2 separate regions of the Homo sapiens genome follow, and region 1 is linked to region 2. Evidence: fine-mapped QTL for protein levels in blood plasma. Region 2 holds a variant in brackets. A gene starts in the other region. All regions are shown on their forward strands. Region 1 holds the start of MGLL (monoglyceride lipase). Region 2 has its middle 8.6 kb from the start of HP.

Evidence for each region. A credible set is the group of variants that fine-mapping cannot tell apart. PIP is the posterior inclusion probability: the model's chance that the variant is causal. The UK Biobank Pharma Proteomics Project read protein levels with antibody pairs (Olink). The fine-mapping took linkage between variants from a reference panel, not from the people measured, so its PIPs are less certain.
Region 1: it holds the start of MGLL, and the variant in region 2 is the best candidate, but not a certain one, in a credible set for the plasma level of the MGLL protein (UK Biobank, PIP 0.62).

What each region holds. Positions count from the first base shown.
Region 1 is chr3:127,819,373-127,827,641 of GRCh38, forward strand. It overlaps MGLL (monoglyceride lipase), which reads right to left and starts at 3,143. Exons shown (of 8, transcript NM_007283.7): 1 at 2,937-3,143; 2 at 2,322-2,466. The coding sequence starts at 2,946. RefSeq lists a silencer at 3,585-4,104.
Region 2 is chr16:72,041,748-72,050,083 of GRCh38, forward strand. No RefSeq gene overlaps it. Among named protein-coding and RNA genes, the nearest start is that of HP, 8.6 kb to the right of the region's middle. The variant C/T (reference allele first, on the strand shown) is at 4,011.

The sequences.
Region 1 (8,269 bases), not on the chromosome of region 2:
AAGATATCCACAGGCCCCCGGGGTGGCTTCTGAGGTCCCTAGGGTCTCTATGAGAAAGATAGCAGAGGCGGGGCTGGAGATGAGGTGCTCTTAACCCAGGTTTTGCCCACAGTTGGTACAGTAGTGGGGGAGGGTTCAGTCTCCTCTTTTTTTGCCCCTTGCTTTTCCTCCCTTCTTTCTTCCTAACTGGGAGGAGACAGGATTGCACAAAGCGAGGCCCTAGTTTTGCTGAAGAGGGGTAAAAAGCCTGGGGGGAAAGATTGAAGCCCTGGTGACTTGAGGTCCCCTCCCTCTTCCTAAAAGCAGAGTGAATGATTCTGTGCAGGCAATAATAATAATACTTATTATAATGATGCTGCGGGGGTCTCCCAGATCATGCAAGAGGGCAGGCAGGCTGAGCAGCTGGTCTCGGTTATGAAGATACAGAGGTGTTTCATGCTGGCTGGCACAAACCTCTGCCCTGAGCCCCCACCCTAGGACCCCCAAGACTGCCCCAAGATCCAGCAAGCACAGGGTTAACATGAGTCATGGCAAGGGGCCTCCAGGACCTCTGCATCATCTCCAGGGGCTGGAGGCAGGGCAGGACAGGTAGGTAGGACCTTGGCCAGCCCCTTCCTCTTTGGTAAACTGAGGATAACACTATGGAAAGTGTTCATACATGCTCATGGTTCTGTTGCTCTTTCTATTTCAGTGCTCCTGCCCTCAATATTTTTTTCCCTTAACCTTTTCTAGACCCATAGGTTTCTTCCAAATTCTGGGGCCGAACTGCCTCAACCATCCACCTCTGTTCTTAAGCCCATCAGCACCCACCACAAGGCGGACGCTGACATCCAAGAGGCAGCTCAGTTTAAATTAAGAAGTTGAGTTATCATCTCTAACTAGAGCAAAAGCAACGGAGCAGAGAGGGCTCCCTGCAATGCAACTTCAGCACAGAGATTGTGAAAACCACCCGCAGGCGAAGGGAGGGCAGGGCAGCCAACTTGACCGTTTCTAACCCACTCACCCACCACCCTCCCCCTGTGCCAGGACTGCAGAACCTCTTTATTTTTGTTGACTTCGAACTAGGACAACCTCACTACTTAACCAACAAAGCCCCCCAAGTCTGAGACTCAGACATTAAAAACTTCTATTTTCAATTATTTGTCTTCTTTCTGTATATTGATCAAATTACCACAAACCACTAATCTGTTAGAAATTAATCCAAGATTGAGCAATTCTACAGCCAGTTAAGTCAGAGTGGAGAATTAATGATTAATTAGCATCATAATGCTCAACAACCCCCCCACTTCCTCTAATGCGTATGCACGTACAGACACATTCTTTAAGAAATGTATTACCAGAACTGGTAGGAACTCTTCTCAGCACGTTACCCACTTGAAAACACTAGAGAGAAACCATAGCCAGTCTGTGTAGCTGCCCTGAAGCTATGACTCTATGCCGGGTTTTAAAAGTCCATATCTCTGTGTTTTTAACGTGCAGCTCCCTGGATCATAGATACCTTGATGAAGACAGAGAAGAAATTTTACACCTGTGTGAGGGTTGGGTGATTACTGGAGCACAAAGAGAGACATAATCCAACCACACAATGATCCCTAGGAGACAAGAGGCCTACAAAACAGGTAAAATGTCCCTGGAACAGGAAATGTTCTTGTCACCAGGCCAATTGGTTACCACAAATAAATTCTTTTTCCAAATAACACAAACAAGCAGGGTTTTCCTGCTTCATCCAAGAGGAGGGAGCAGCAGCAGGAGACCAGCTGTCTTGTGTATAGTCCCAATGTTTGCTTCTAATAGCAAGACAAATCCTTGATGGAAAATGTACAAAGTAATTGAGCTGGCAAGGAATCAGAAGGAAATACCCAGGCCCCTTTCTTCCTGGTGACACATGTATGCCATCTTCAGAAGCTCAGAAACAAGCAGGAAAAGTGAGCAAAGGTGAAGATATATGTATTACTTCGGGTTTCTCATCCATCTAGGGGATTTTCCTTAATTGTCGGGTTTGATTTTAAATGAATGCCTGTACAACCGGAAATCAACTCCAGTACAAAAAATAAAGTCATGTGGAATTTTTGAAAATTGCCATACGGTAGGATCCATATCTGAGTTGTTATAATGAAAAAAGAATTCCTGCTTCTTAAATTTAAAAATTATAAAGTATACATTTTAGCTTTGTTAACATTGCTCAGCCTAACATTAAAACGGCAGGGGAAGTAGGTCATAGAGAAAGCGGCCCCGCCCCAGATGGCACATGATAACGACCAGAGGAGAAGCAGGGGCCATGCTCCCCTGTCACCTGGGGTGACTTTCTGGGGAAGACTTACTTGGGTGTGCCTGTGGGTTTCCAGTACCTGCAGAAGAGGTACTGTCCGTCTGCATTGACCAGGTGAGGGAGGTCCTGGTAGGGAATGCTCTGCGGGGTCCGCCTGGGGGAACTTTCCTCTGGCATGCTGGAAGGGTCTTCAGGTCCTAGAAGGAAAAGTGACATATTCCAAAGTCAGAAATATCTCAAGAACATGTATGGATAGGAGAGAAAAGTCTAGTTCAGAGTCAGTAACATTTTTTTAAAAGCAGTTTAAAAAACCCCTCTGTTTCAAAGGTTTAAAACATACATACATTTCTTGCAAACCTCTCCAAGACTGAAAAATCCCATTTGTTCTTAAGAAAATGCTCACTTTATTTTTTAAGTGCCTCATTACAGTTTTTCCCCCTTCCCATCTGTGTTTATTTTAAATCATTTCAGGAAACTTCATCTTAAAGACTATTTTAGCTGTAATCAAGTGGAAATTATAGTCAGCTCTATGGGTACAAAGACCCAGCTGCAAGAAGACCCATCTATCTTAAAATCTCCAAGGAACAGTTTCAAGTGGGCACAATAATGAGGTGGATGATACTCAGATTATTCCTCCCATCTGAAATTCCAAGGATACATGACAAACCTGTTTCCATTATGTGCTGGCGTTTGCATTCCACAACCACGACAGCCTGGAGAATCAGAACCAGGCAAATCGGGCTGTTCCCTCATCTGGGCGGCCCCAAGGCAGCAGGAAGGCAGCTCCGAGCCCTCTTCCCGCACCCAGACCCTGCCTTTCGGGCTGGGGCGCTCAGCCGGGAGCCTGCTTCCAGCTCCCACCGGCAGGCTCTCCGGGGCTCCCCTCCCTCCCCAGGGCGGGGAGCGGCGCTGCGATTCTCCACTACTAGTTCATGTCATCACTTTTCCTAAACAAATCGCTAGAGGGGCTCGGAGAAGGGAGGGGCCCGGGAAACTGGGAAACTAGCTCCGCGCACACCGAGGCACCTCGCAGACGCACAAATGCGGGTGCCCAAGGCAAAGTCGCCCCCAAGGCTTCTCACAAACTTTGCTTCCTGTGCGTCTCCGACAGCACAGGACACGTAGCCCCGAAGCTGTCATCGGAAATGCCGCTGGGAAAACCGGGTGGGCTTCGCCGGGTGTCTGCACCGGGGAAGGTGGGGACTAGAAAGATGGAGTTGATGGGGACAAGTTGGTTTGGGGGCTGGTGCGAAGGAGCAGGGAGGGCGCGCGCGCGCGCACACGCGCGCACACTCGGACACGCGCGCACACACACCGTGCACACACACACACGCACACATGGGTAGCGGGAGCCCACGCCGGGCGTGTCCGGGACCCCAGTGCTGCTCCCCACCCCTGACGGCGGCACTGGCGGGCTGGGGCAGGGGCCGGGAGGCAGTTACCGGGGCCACGAGCGCCGCTGTCGCGTTCCCCGAGCGCAGCGGATCCTCGTTTGCGGCGGGCCAGGGCCGGGACGAGCTGCGCGCGACCGGCTTCGCGGCGACAGGGTGCGGCGTCTGCGCCGCCACTTTATCCCTGGGCCGGCTCGGCGGCGGGGGCGGCCCGAGGTGGGTGGGGACGCGCGGGACCCGGCGGGCGGCGGGCGGCGCGGGGAGGCGGCGCCCGGGGCCCACGTGTGCCCGGCCCGCGGGGAGGAGCGGGGGCGCCGCCCGCCGACCCAGCCACGCACTCCTCTCCTCCGCGCCTCGTGGACAGCCGCGCCCCGGGGTGGCCGCCCGAGGACTGTCAGGGAGGCCTGAACTGAGCTGGGTTCATGGGAGCCTCAGCGCGGGAGGACACACCACACCCACGGGCACACGCGCGCACACAGACCCACAGGCACCACACGTACACAGACAACTCGCGCAGGGCCGCACACTCACCACACGTGTACACATGTGCACTCCCAAAGTCACTACACTGCACGCAGGGACATACAGACACACATCCCAGAGATACCACATGCATACAGACACACACAGACCACACATGCATGCACACACACAAGCCGAGACATAGGCACAGACAACCCACAGAGACACAGAGGTGCACAGACATATGCAGACTATACACCTGGCCCCCACATAGACACAGACACACTCACATCATACACACACAGTCGCACACAGACACACTCACACTTCATTGCAGTCAGACACATACAATGCTGGAGGGGCAATTAACCGGTCGTGGTGGCATGCGCCTGTAGTCCCAGCTACTCAGGAGAATCGCTTGAACCCGGGAGGCAGAGGTTGCAGTGAGCCGATACCACACCATTGCACTTCAGCCTGGGTGACAGAGTGAGACTCCATCTCGGGGAAAAAAAAATGCTGGAGGGGGTCCACTTGACTCTAGGGTAGTGTAAAAGCAGATGGTGCATGGCTACAAATGCCTTGTCCCTTCCTGGCAATCCCCAGCAACTCTCCCGTTCCCAGCGGCTGTGACCCCCAGATAAAACCTCTGGTGCATCTACACAGGCCAGGGCACAGTCTGAGCTCTGTCCAGTATAACTAGCAACGTGGCCGTGGAGGGTAAGGCCACTGGACTGAGACTCCACACCACCTGGGTTGAACATTAGCTCCTCCGCTTGCTCTTTGAGCCTCAGTCTACCTACCTTCAACCTGTGAGTGATATACCTATGCCCCAGTGGAGTGTCCCTGTCTCACACTGACCTCAAGAGGCCTTCCTGTCTTTCTCCGCAAAAAATTCTACACCATAGCAGCGTTGAGGACTGTGTCTCAGCGTCACACTGTGTGTGTCCAAGGAGGCCCAAGTTGCTACAGAGCCTGTGGTCTAACTTGAGAAATAAAACAACAGCCTTTGAGCAGTGGCTTGAGTTGTAGGCACTGCTGAGCGTGACTTACCCACTGTCTGGCCTCCAGCAGGCCACGAGGCCTGGAGCAGAGGAGTGGCTAAGTGACTTCTGGTCGGGGCAGCTCTACAGAATCCATGCAAGAGAGGTTTAGGGGCGGCAGTCTCAGGGGCAGGAAGCTTGGGGGCTTCACTCAAAGCTGGACATGCTAAGTGCACCGGATTTCCGTTGGTTATAATTCATGGAAAGGAAGGGTGCTCGGGGGTCTGATGGACGCTTTTATCAAGGCATTATTTCAAATGTTCCTGGCTCTAACATTTTATGATTTAAAATACACAGCTTGAAAATTTGGAGGAGAGGCCGGGCTCAGTGGCTCACGCCTGTAATCCCAGTCCTTTGGGAGGCCAGGCAGGTGGATCATCTGAGGTCAGGAGCTGGAGACCAGCCTGACCAACATGGTGAAACCCCATCTCTACTAAAAATACAAAAATTAGCTGGGCATGGTAGCGGGCACCTGTAATCCCAGCTACTCGGGAGGCTGAGGCAGGAGAATCGCTTGAACCCGGGAGACAGAGGTTGCAGTGATTGCACTCCAGCCTGAGCGACAGAGCAAGGCTCTGTCTCAAAAAAAAAAAAAAAAAAAAAAAGCTTTGAGGAGAGACTTCACTGAAGTTGTCAGAGGGATCTCAGTAGAAGTGACATTTGCAAACTTGAAGAGATCCCCCAAACTTGGTTATGGACAGAACTGAGACTGTGGTGTGTGGCCAGCCAACTGGGAATTTGGGAGTTAAGAGACAGATCGTATTGTTCTGTATCTGGCTTTTTCTTTTAATTAAACTTATTCTGAGATAATTGTAGATTCGCATGCAGTTGTAACAAATAATAAAGAGAGATGCTATGTGCCCTTTACTCAGTTTCCTGCAATGGCAACTTCTCACAAACCACAGTAAATATCACAACAGGATACTGACACTGATAGAATATCTGTAGTCAAGCTACAGAACGTCTCTACCCCACAAAGTGGTATGCTTTTATAGCCACATCCACTTCCCTCTCATCCTCACTCCCCTAGAACCCCTGGCAACTGCTAATTTGTTCTCCATTTCTAAAATTTTGTCATTTCAAGGATATTTTATGAATAGAATCATAAAGTACATAACCTCTAGGATTCACCTTTTCATTCAGCATAATTCCAGGTGGGTTGGGTGTAGCAGTCCACAGTATGGAAGTACCACAGTGTGTCTAACAGGTCATCTGCTGAAGGATATCTGCGTTGTTTCCAGTGTTTGTTGATTAAGAATAAAGCTGCTGTAAACCTCCGTGTACATGTTTTTGTGTGAACCTAAGTCTTCATTCTCTGAGATGAGGGCCCAGGAGTGCAATTGCTGAGCTGTAGGGAAATTGCAAGTTTTTAAAGAGAATGCCAAAATGTTTTCCAGAGTGACTGTAGCATTTTACATTCCTACCAGCAGTGTAGGAGAGAACCAGTCTCTCAGCATTCATGTCAGCATGTAGTGTTGTCACCATTTTAAAAATTTTAGTCTTTCTGTTAAGTGTGTAGTGATGATATTTCACTGTGGTTTTTAATTTGCTTTTGCCTAATGGCTAATGTTGTTTCATGTGCGTATTTGCCATCTATATATCCCATTCAGTAAAATGTCTTTTCTTGTCTTTCGGCTATTTTCTTGCCCCCCACCCCCCTTTTTTTTTTTTTTTTTTTGAGACTGAGCCTCACTCTGTAGCCCAAGCTGAAGTGCAGTGGCGCCATCTTGTTTCATTGCAACCTCCACCTCCCAGGCTCAAACAATTCTCATGCCTCAGCCTCCCTAGTAGCTGGGACTACAGGTGCAGGCCACCACACCTGGCTAACTTTTTGTATTTTAGTAGAGACGGGGTTTCATCATGTTGCCCAGGGTGGTCTCAAATTCCTGAGCTCAGGCGATCTGACCGGCCTCAGCCTCCCAAAGTGCTGGAATTACAGGCATGAGCCACCACGCCCATCCTTTAGGCTATTTTCTTTCTTTCTTTTCTTTTCTTTTTTCTTTTTTTTGAGACAGGGTCTCGTTCTGTCACCCAGTCTGGAGTGCGTTGGTACGATCTCCGTTCATTGCAGCCTTTGGCTATTTTTTAATTGTTTGCTTGTTGTTTTCTTACTGTTGAGTTTTGAGAGTTCTTGGTATATTCTAGACATTAGTCTACTAGATACTAGATGTGTGATTGCAAATATTTTCTTCCAGTCTGTAGCTTGTCTTTTAATCCTTTTAACAAGGTCTTTTGCAGAGCAAAAGTTTTCATTTTGATCAGAAACAATTTATCAATTTTTTGTTTTATGGATTATGCATTTGGTGTCAAGTCTAAGAACTCTGTGTAGTCCTACCTCAAGAGATTTTCTCCTGTGTTTTTCTCTAAAAGTTGTATAGATTTACATTTTATGCTTAAGTCTGTAAGCTATTTTGAGTTACTTTTTGTCTGGAGTGTGAGATTTAGATCAAGGTTCATTTGTCTCTACATGTCCCATTGCTCCAGCACAGTTTGTTGAAAAGGCTGCCTTTCCTCCACTGAATTGCTTTTGCACTTTTGTAAAATTCAGCTGCCTGCTTGTACAGGTCTATTTCTGGGTTCTCTCTTTTGTTTCTTTGGTCTGTGTCTATTCCTCCACCAATACCACACAGTCTTGATTATTGAAGTTCTCTATAAATCTTGAAATTGAATAGGCTGGTTCCTCTCACTTTATTCTTCATTTACAAGACTTTTTTTTTTTTTTTTTTTTTTTTTTTTTTTTGGTAGAGAAGGAATCTCTCCATGTTGCCCAGGCTGGTCTTGAACTCCCGGCCTTAAGCCACCCTCCCACTGTGACCTCCCAATGCACTGGGATTACAAATGTGAGCTACCACACTCAGTCTACAAGATTCTTTGAACGATTCTAGTTCCTTCACCTTTCAATATAAATTTTAAAATAACCTTGTTTATATTCATTAAAAATTTTGCTGGGATTATGATAGGAATTGCATTAAACATGTATATTCTTCGAGAACTGACATTTTTACTATTAAGTCTTCCAATCCATGAACATGGGTATATATGTCCATTTATTTAGTTGTTCTTTGATTCCTTCATAAATGTTGTATAGTTTTCAGCATACAAGTTCT
Region 2 (8,336 bases):
TGATCATGGCTCACTGCAGCCTCAATCTCCTGGGCTCAAGTGATCCTCCCACCTCAGCCTCCAGAGCATCTGGGACTACAGGTGTGTGCCACCACACCTGGCTAATTTTTGTATTTTTTGTAGGCATGGGGTTTCACTCTGTTGCCCAGGCTGGGACCTTGTGTGCTTTAATCCCTGTTAAGTCACTTAGTCAAATTTAATCCTAGCTAATAAAGAAGACAGATTGAGGTCTACTATAGTTTTATATTTGCTTGGAAGAGATGTTATGTGCTTACTACTTGGCTAAAACATGTTTCAGGATTTCTCTTTTTCCTCCAGGTACAGACCTCCGGTCCCAACACACCATAAGAACATTCTGAGATGATAATGTTACCTACCCTCTAGTCTGGGCCACCTATGATGTTGAATGAGTCTTGGCAGCCAGGGAAAATTTCTGTAAGAGCCTTGTGGTTAGACACATAGGAAATAAAGTCACTGTGGCTTGTCACATGCAAGAGGACAGCAGGGGACAGGGCATAGCGCTGTGTGTGCAGGAACAGTGTGGGAATGATCTGGAATTTGTGAAATACCTGGGCAGCAATACAAGGACGAGGCTCCAAAGGGCAGGGCTTCAGGAGAGGAAATGGATAAACACTGCACTTCTTGCATTACTGCCAGCCACAAAGAGGTTTCCTGAGTGCTGAAAACCCCATCTGGAAAGTGTCCCATAGGAAACAAAAGGAGTTACAGTGTGTGAAGGTCACTTGGCTGCTGCACCACCTGCCACCCCATTAATCACTTGAGTTGGTGGGTACAGGAACAAAGCTGTGGGCAGAGGGTCAGAACACTTCCTGTCTGCCCCAGGCACATGGAAGACATTCTCCTGAGTAGTAACCTTGGCACTGCCTTGGCTATTTGAGAAGCTGGCCAGTTACGTATTTCAGTCACTGGGTATTTGAGAAGCTGGCCAGTCTTTTGAGCTTCAACCATTCTCACAGATGTTGAATTTGCAGTTCTTAATGGATCTAGTGACACCTTCCTACCTCAGTAGAGCAAAAAATGTGGATCCCAGGTCTGGGAACCTAAAAGAAATCACTCTGAGTAGGTTAGAATTTCACCTCTATCTGAGACCCTGACAGAATCATTTAAAAATAAAAACACATATATACAAATATCTATACACACATAGGTGTGTGTGTGTGAATAGGGTGGCCCACCTTCATGTTCTTTTACTCCCTTGTTCTTCCAGTCATTCACTGAGATGCTGAGTTTTCCAGCATCTCTCAGTCTCTCAGAAGAACCGCCTGCCAGCATCCAGTGGGTCACATCCTACGACAAGCCCAGCACCTCTTCAGTGGAAGGGGATTTGCTTTGCGGCTTGGCAAGTTTATGCAAGTCCCTGATTTCTTGCACTGACTGCTGAAAAGCAGAGCTCCATTTAAATTCCATTCCTTCTGAAGATCTGTCCTATGACCAGGGTGCATGGTTCAACTCCTCTCTGCATCTGGCTGGCACCCAGGGCACTCTTGCCCAAATGCTTTGTCAGGTAGTTTACTTGATCTGTTTCCTAACGTGCTTCCCAGCCATGGTCCACATGGTTTCAGACTGCTCCAGGGCCCCCAAGGCCAACACAGGGGTCATGCTTGGAGAAAACCTTCAATTCTTTGCAGCCTCAGGCTTCTCCAGCCTTGGGTGCCAGTGCTTTAAGGTCCTCCTTATCCTCTTTGCTGGGCATCACTGCCTCAGTCATGGTTTAAATCTGATACACAAGGTTCTTAATGGGCCTCCATAGCCATGTACAATTGACACCCTTAGCCTGGCTAATGTGGTTAGCTAGCAAGTTTGTTATCCCTTCCAGGTAAGAAATGCCTTAACCCAGTGAAAGATCTGTCTCCAGATGACCCTTAAAAGTGACTCTAATGGTGAGCCCTTGATGCTGATTATGTGAGGGAATCTTTTTTATTTTATTTTTGAGACAGGGTCTTGATCTGTTGCCCAGGCTGGAGTACAGTGGCGCAATCAGAGCTCACTGCAGCCTCTCCCAGGCTCAAGTGATCCTCCCCACTCAGTCCCCTGAGTAGCTGGAACTATAGGTGCATACCACTATGCCTGGCTAACTTCTTATTTTTTTATTTTTGTAGAGATGGATCTCCCTATGTTGCCCAGGCTCACCTTGAACTCTTGGCTTCAAGCAATCCTCCAGCATGTCCTCCCAAGTGCTGGGATTATAGGCATGAGCCACTGTGCCCAGCACATGTGAGGGAGTCTTGAGAATTCTGTGTAGTTTGTCATGTGGGAGAGGTAGCACCCCAGGGTGGTCAAGGGCTTGGCCTGGGTTTGAATCCTGGCTCCTCTCTTTGCTAGCTGTGTTACCTTGAACAAGTTCCTTATCCTCTCTGTGCCCCATTTATAAAAAACGGGATTATTAGATAATAAAAAGACCCAATGCTTATGGGCTGTTGAAGAATTAAATGAGTAAATACACAGAAAGCACATAGCACAGTGCCTGGCACACAGAACCCTCCCAATGTTACCTGTTATTACTAGGAGTTGACTGGCTTTTCTCCTAAAGTACCTGCAGGGCTGGTTCTGCGGACAGCTTTTATGCTTCTGAGGGCTGGATCTTCTCCACTGCAGACAGAAGATGACAATACAGGCATTACTTACTCGTGTTACAGTTTTTATTTCTGCCCCTATTCTGAACTCTTTGAAGGCAGAGGCTATGTTTATCCCCCATTCAATTCAACCAACCGGACTGAGCCTCTGTTGTATGCCAGGCATTGCTGGGCCATGGAGATAAGGGTGAATGAAAAAACACCGACTTGGTCCTACCTTGTTTCCTGGGACCCATCCCACAAACGTGGTAGGTTGAAGAAATTAAGGAAGGTTGATATGAATTCTTTTGAATATAGAGTCAGTTTTTACACTCGTACTAATATCCTCATGCCTTTGACATCTGACCAGTTTCATGCTGGGAAAGGCAGCATTTCTTTGTAAGTTTTGACAGGCTGTGTGGGTTTCCCACCTTGGTTGGCTGTCTTTGCTGACAGGAAGCTGGTCTGAGGATAATATTTGATTTAGCAGCCTGGATCTTGGAAGTTCCTCATTTACAAACTGTCAGGGATGATCCTACTTTTAAGAAGCTCTTAAAAAGCTTAAAATATCAATGTGTATGGTACAAAATATCAATATGTGTGTCTGCCAGTGGCTCAGTTTTGGAGAAGAGAATTGCTGACCGTAAGGCAGTGCAACTGGGAAGCAATGCCTATGTTCCAGGCACCGTGGGACCCTGTAGCCCCTGGTCCTGGTGACTGTGAAAAAAAGGAGAAATTCTAGAAATAGGTGTAATCATGTGAATGTCTTTGTTTAATTTTCTTATCAAGATAAACTGCAATTCTGAACAACATGTGCTGTTCTGAATTCAACAGTCCACTCTCCATTCTGTTTGAAGGTCATGTATACTCTTGTGAAAATCCAGGGTTCTCATTTCATGGCTACTGAGGTATTTATTCCTATACTATTTAAATCAATTAAAAAATATCATTTACAATAACATAAACATCAAATGCTTAAGAATAAATCTAATGAAAGAGGTGCCAGAGGTCTGTATCAATATGAACAAGGCATTAAAATTAAAGACAGCCTAAATAAATGAAGAGAGATGCTACGTGCATTACTCGAAAGACTCAACAGAGTCAAGATGTCAACTCTCCCCAAAGTGATCTGGAGATTCAATGTAATCCCAATAAAAATCCCATCAGGACATTTTGTGAGAATTGGAAAGTTGATTTTAAAATTTACATAAAATGGAAAAGACCTAGAATAGTCAAGACAAACTCTGAAAGAAAATAAAGTTGGAACACTTATAATACCAGATAGCAAGATTTAGTATAAAGTTCCCATTATTGGCCAGGTGTGGAGGCTCATGCCTGTAATGCCAGCACTTTAGGAAGCTGAGGTGGGTGGATCACTTGAGCCCAAGAGTTCAAGTCCAGCCTGGTCAACATGGCAAAACCACATCTCTACAACTA[C/T]AACAACAACAAGTTGGCTGTGTGTGGTTGCGCATACCTGTAGTCTCAGTTACCTGTGAGGCTGAGGTGGGAGGATTGTTGGAGATCATTGTTGAGGCTGCAGATTGTGTCCCTGCACTCCTGCCTGGGGGACAGTGAGACCCTGTCTCAAAAAAAGTTCCCATTTGTGAACCCCCAAAATTTGAGACAGGTTTCGGTTAATTTAGAAAGCTTATTTTGCCAAGGTTGAGGACGCACACCCAACACAACCTCAGGAGGTCCTGATATATGTCCAAGGCGGTCAGAGCACAGTTTGGTTTTATACATTTTAGGGAGACCTGAGACATCAATCAACATACGTAAGATGAACACTGGTTCCGTCCGCAGAGGCGGGACAAGTCTCAAAGCCAGGAGGGGGCTTCCAGGTCATAGGTAGATAAGAGACAAATGGTTACATTCTTTTGAGGTTCTGATGAGCCTCTCCAAAAGAGGCAAAAGGATATGCATTTATCTCAGTGAGCAGAGGGGTGGCATTGAATAGAATGGGAGGCAGGTTTGCCCTAAGCAGTTCTCTGCTTCACTTTTCCCTTTAGCTTAGTGATTCTGGGGGTTTAAGATAGTTTCCTTTCACACATTATTATTATTATTATTATTATTATTATTTATTTTTTTATTTTTATTTTTTGAGACAGAATCTCGTTCTGTCGCCCAGGCTGGAGTGCAGTGGCGCGATCTCAGCTCACTGCAACTTCCGCCTTCCGGGTTCAAGCGATTCCCCTGCCTCAGCCTCCGAGTAGCTGGGACTACAGGCGCCCGCCACCATGCCCAGCTAATTTTTTGTACTTTAGTAGGGATGGGGTTTCACCATGTTGGCCAGAATGATCTCGATCTCCTGACCTCGTGATCCACCCGCCTCGGCCTCCCAAAATGCTGGGATTACAGGCGTGAGCCACCGCACCCAACCTCCTTTCACACATTATTAAGACAGTATGACAATGGCTCCAGATTAGACAAATAGACTAATGGAAAAGAATAGAGGATTCAGGAGGAGGCCAACACATATATAATCACCTGATGTATAATAAAGATACCACTGGAATTCAGGGACAAAGGATGGTCATTTTAGCAAATAATACTGGATCGATTGCATGCCTATATGGAAAAAATGAACTTTTCTCTCACATCCTATACCAACATTAATTCCAAATGGATCATAGACCTAGATTTGAAAGGTAAAACAATACACTTTTAGAAAAACATATAGGAGAATATTGTCACAACCTTGTAGGCAAAAATTTCTTAATCAGAACACAGAAATCACTAACTATGAAATTTAAAAAACTGACAAATTAGGACTTATTTAAGATTAAGAACTTCTGTACTTCTGTTCATCAAAATACAAGATTAAAAGAATTAAAGGACAAACCATGGAATGGGAGAACATGTTTACAATACATTTATCCAAAAAAAGACTAGTATTCAGAATATTTTAGAAAAAGACAACAAATCTACAAGGAGAAGACATACTGTAAAGAGGATATCTAAGTGGTCCAACACAAATCTAAAAAGTGGTCTACATCATTTGATATTGGGGAAATGCAAAATTAAAGCCATTATTATTATTTTTATTTATTTATTTATTTTTTGAGATGGAGTCTTGCTCTTTCCCCCAGGCTGAAGTGCAGTGGTGCGATCTCAGTTCACTGCAACCTCTGCCCCCAGGTTCAAACGATTCTCCTGCCTCAGTCTCCTGAGTAGCTGGGACTACAGGCCCATGCCACCACACCCGGCTGATTTTTGTATTTTTAGTAGAGACGGGGTTTCGCTGTGTTGGCCAGGCTGGTCTCGAACTCCTGACCTCAGGTGATCCACCTGCCTTGGCCTCCCAAAGTGCTAGGATTACAGGCGTGAGCCACTGTGCCTGGCCTCCATTATTATGTTTTACTACACATATGCAGAATGGCAAAACTTAAAAAGTATTGGCAAGGATGCAGAGCAACTGGAACTTTGATATACTGATGATAGGAGAGTTTATTGAAAAACTGGTAGAATCTATTAAAGCTAGACATATGCCTACCCTATGACAAAACCAGGTACGTATCCAAGAGAAATGAATGCAGGTAACCACCAAACAATATATGCAAGAATGTTCATAGCAGCTTGGTTTGCAGTAGCCCCCGGATGGAATCAATCCACACATCCATCTACAGGAGAATGGATAAATCAATTGTGCTTTAGTCACACAATGGAATACTTCTCAGCAATAAAAAAAGAAACTAATGTGACAACATGGATGTTTCTCACAGACATTATGTTGAAAAAACAAGCCAGAAACCAAGAATGCCTACTATTTGATTCTATTTATACAAAGTTCAGGACCAGGCAAAAGTATTCCATCATGACAGATGTCAGGACAGTGGTTACTTTGGTAGGGGTGGGGTGTGGGCTGAGAGGAACCCAAAGGAGTTTTCTGGGGTGCTAGAAATATTTCATACTATAAAGATTCATTGAGATGAACACTTAAGGTTTGGTATTTTTAGTAAATGATGCTGGATCAATTGTACATCCAAATGGAGTAAAATGAGTGTGGTCTCCTTACCTCACTTCCCTGTGTGTATGCAAGCTATTTATAACAGTAAAATTAAAGTACATGTGATACCTCCTTAAGTTAGGAGTATAATATAGCATTTAAGATTTTTTTTTTTTTTTTTTTTTTTGAGACAGAGTCTCGCTCTGTCACCCAGGCTGGAGTGCAGTGGCGCGATCTTGGCTCACTGCAACCTCCGCCCCCCAGGTTCAAGTGATTCTCCTGCCTCAGCCTCCTGAGTAGCTGGGATTACAGGCGCACGCCATCACACCTGGCTAATTTTTGTATTTTTAGTAGGATGGGGTTTCACCATGTTGGTCAGCCTGGTCTCAAACTCCTGACCTCGTGATCTGCCTGCCACGGCCTCCCAAAGTGCTGGGATTACAGGTGTGAGCCACCGTGCCTGGCCTAAAATGTTTTAAGAGTTTTCTACAACATGGAAAATGCCTACAACATTGGGTGATGTAGAAAGCAAAAAGTTCCTCTTCAAAATTTCCCTTCTTGTTAAAGAATAAATCATAAGTGTTAGAGATAATAGTTTCTTTTAAAAACTAACTTCCTTCAAACTTCCTTGCTTTGTGCTAATAACTCTTTGTTAAGCCCTATCCTATGTAGTTATTAAATGTAAGAAAATTAAATACATTCTATGTCCCTGTACTTTAACCAAGATATCTGTGCTAGACCTGTGCACAGGCATGTCACAGCTTGCAGCCTATGCCCCTTCCTTATTTGGGAATGTTATTACTTTTCTGAGTCTTTTCATAAGCAACTTCCTCTTTTCCTTTCTTCTCCTCTGCCATTACCTCTTTAGAAAAAGTTTTAAACCTTTAGCCAACTGGGTGCTGCCTAGACTGTCAGGTCCAGTTCCAGCCAATGGAATCAGGACACAGCAGTAGGGTCTGGATGGGTCAGATATAAATGTTTTGTACCTCCTTTGTTCAAGTGTGCTCTTGTCTTTGTTCCATCTGTGATGGGCACCCTTTCTGCAGAAAGTAAAAATTGCCTTGCTGAGAGAATTAAATTTATGTTCAAGTGCTATTTCTTTATGGCACTGGGGAACAAGCATTTTGCATTTCTAACAGATGAAAAGGTTAGGCCAAAAAATTCTATATAAAGAATGATCAAAATTGTGTAAAAGTATGCACAGAGAAAATCTGAAAGGAAGTAACACTAAAATGTTAATAGTGGTTATTGGTTGTCTTGAGGTGGTGAAATTATCGGAGACTTATTTCTTATTTTTATTTTTTGGTAGCTTATAAAATTTCAAGACTTTTGTAATGGCAGAGTAAACTTTTTGTTTTTTTGAGACAGGGTCTCACTGTCACCCAGGCTGAAGTGCAGTGGCATGATCATAGCTCACTACAGCCTCAACTCCCAGGTGCAAGCAATCCTCCCACCTCAGCCTCCAGAGTAGCTGGGACTACAGGCATGTGCCACTGTTCTTGGATAATTTTTTACGTATTTTCTGTAGAGACGGAGTTTTACCATGTTGCCCATTTTATTCCATATGGTCTCCAACTCTTGGGCTCAAGCAATCGACCCGCCTTGGCCTCCCAAAGCACTGGGATTACAGGCATGAGCCACTATGCCTGGCTGGCAGAGTGAACTTTTAAAAATCATATTTTCCTTCTAAAATCAAAACTCTCCCCTTCAAGCTCCTCTGTCAACTGCTGTCCTGGCCTATTAATATTTCAAGCTTTCCTGCTTTCTATTCTCCCAAGAAAATATATGCCTACTTTCCTTGGTGGAGTCTTCTGACT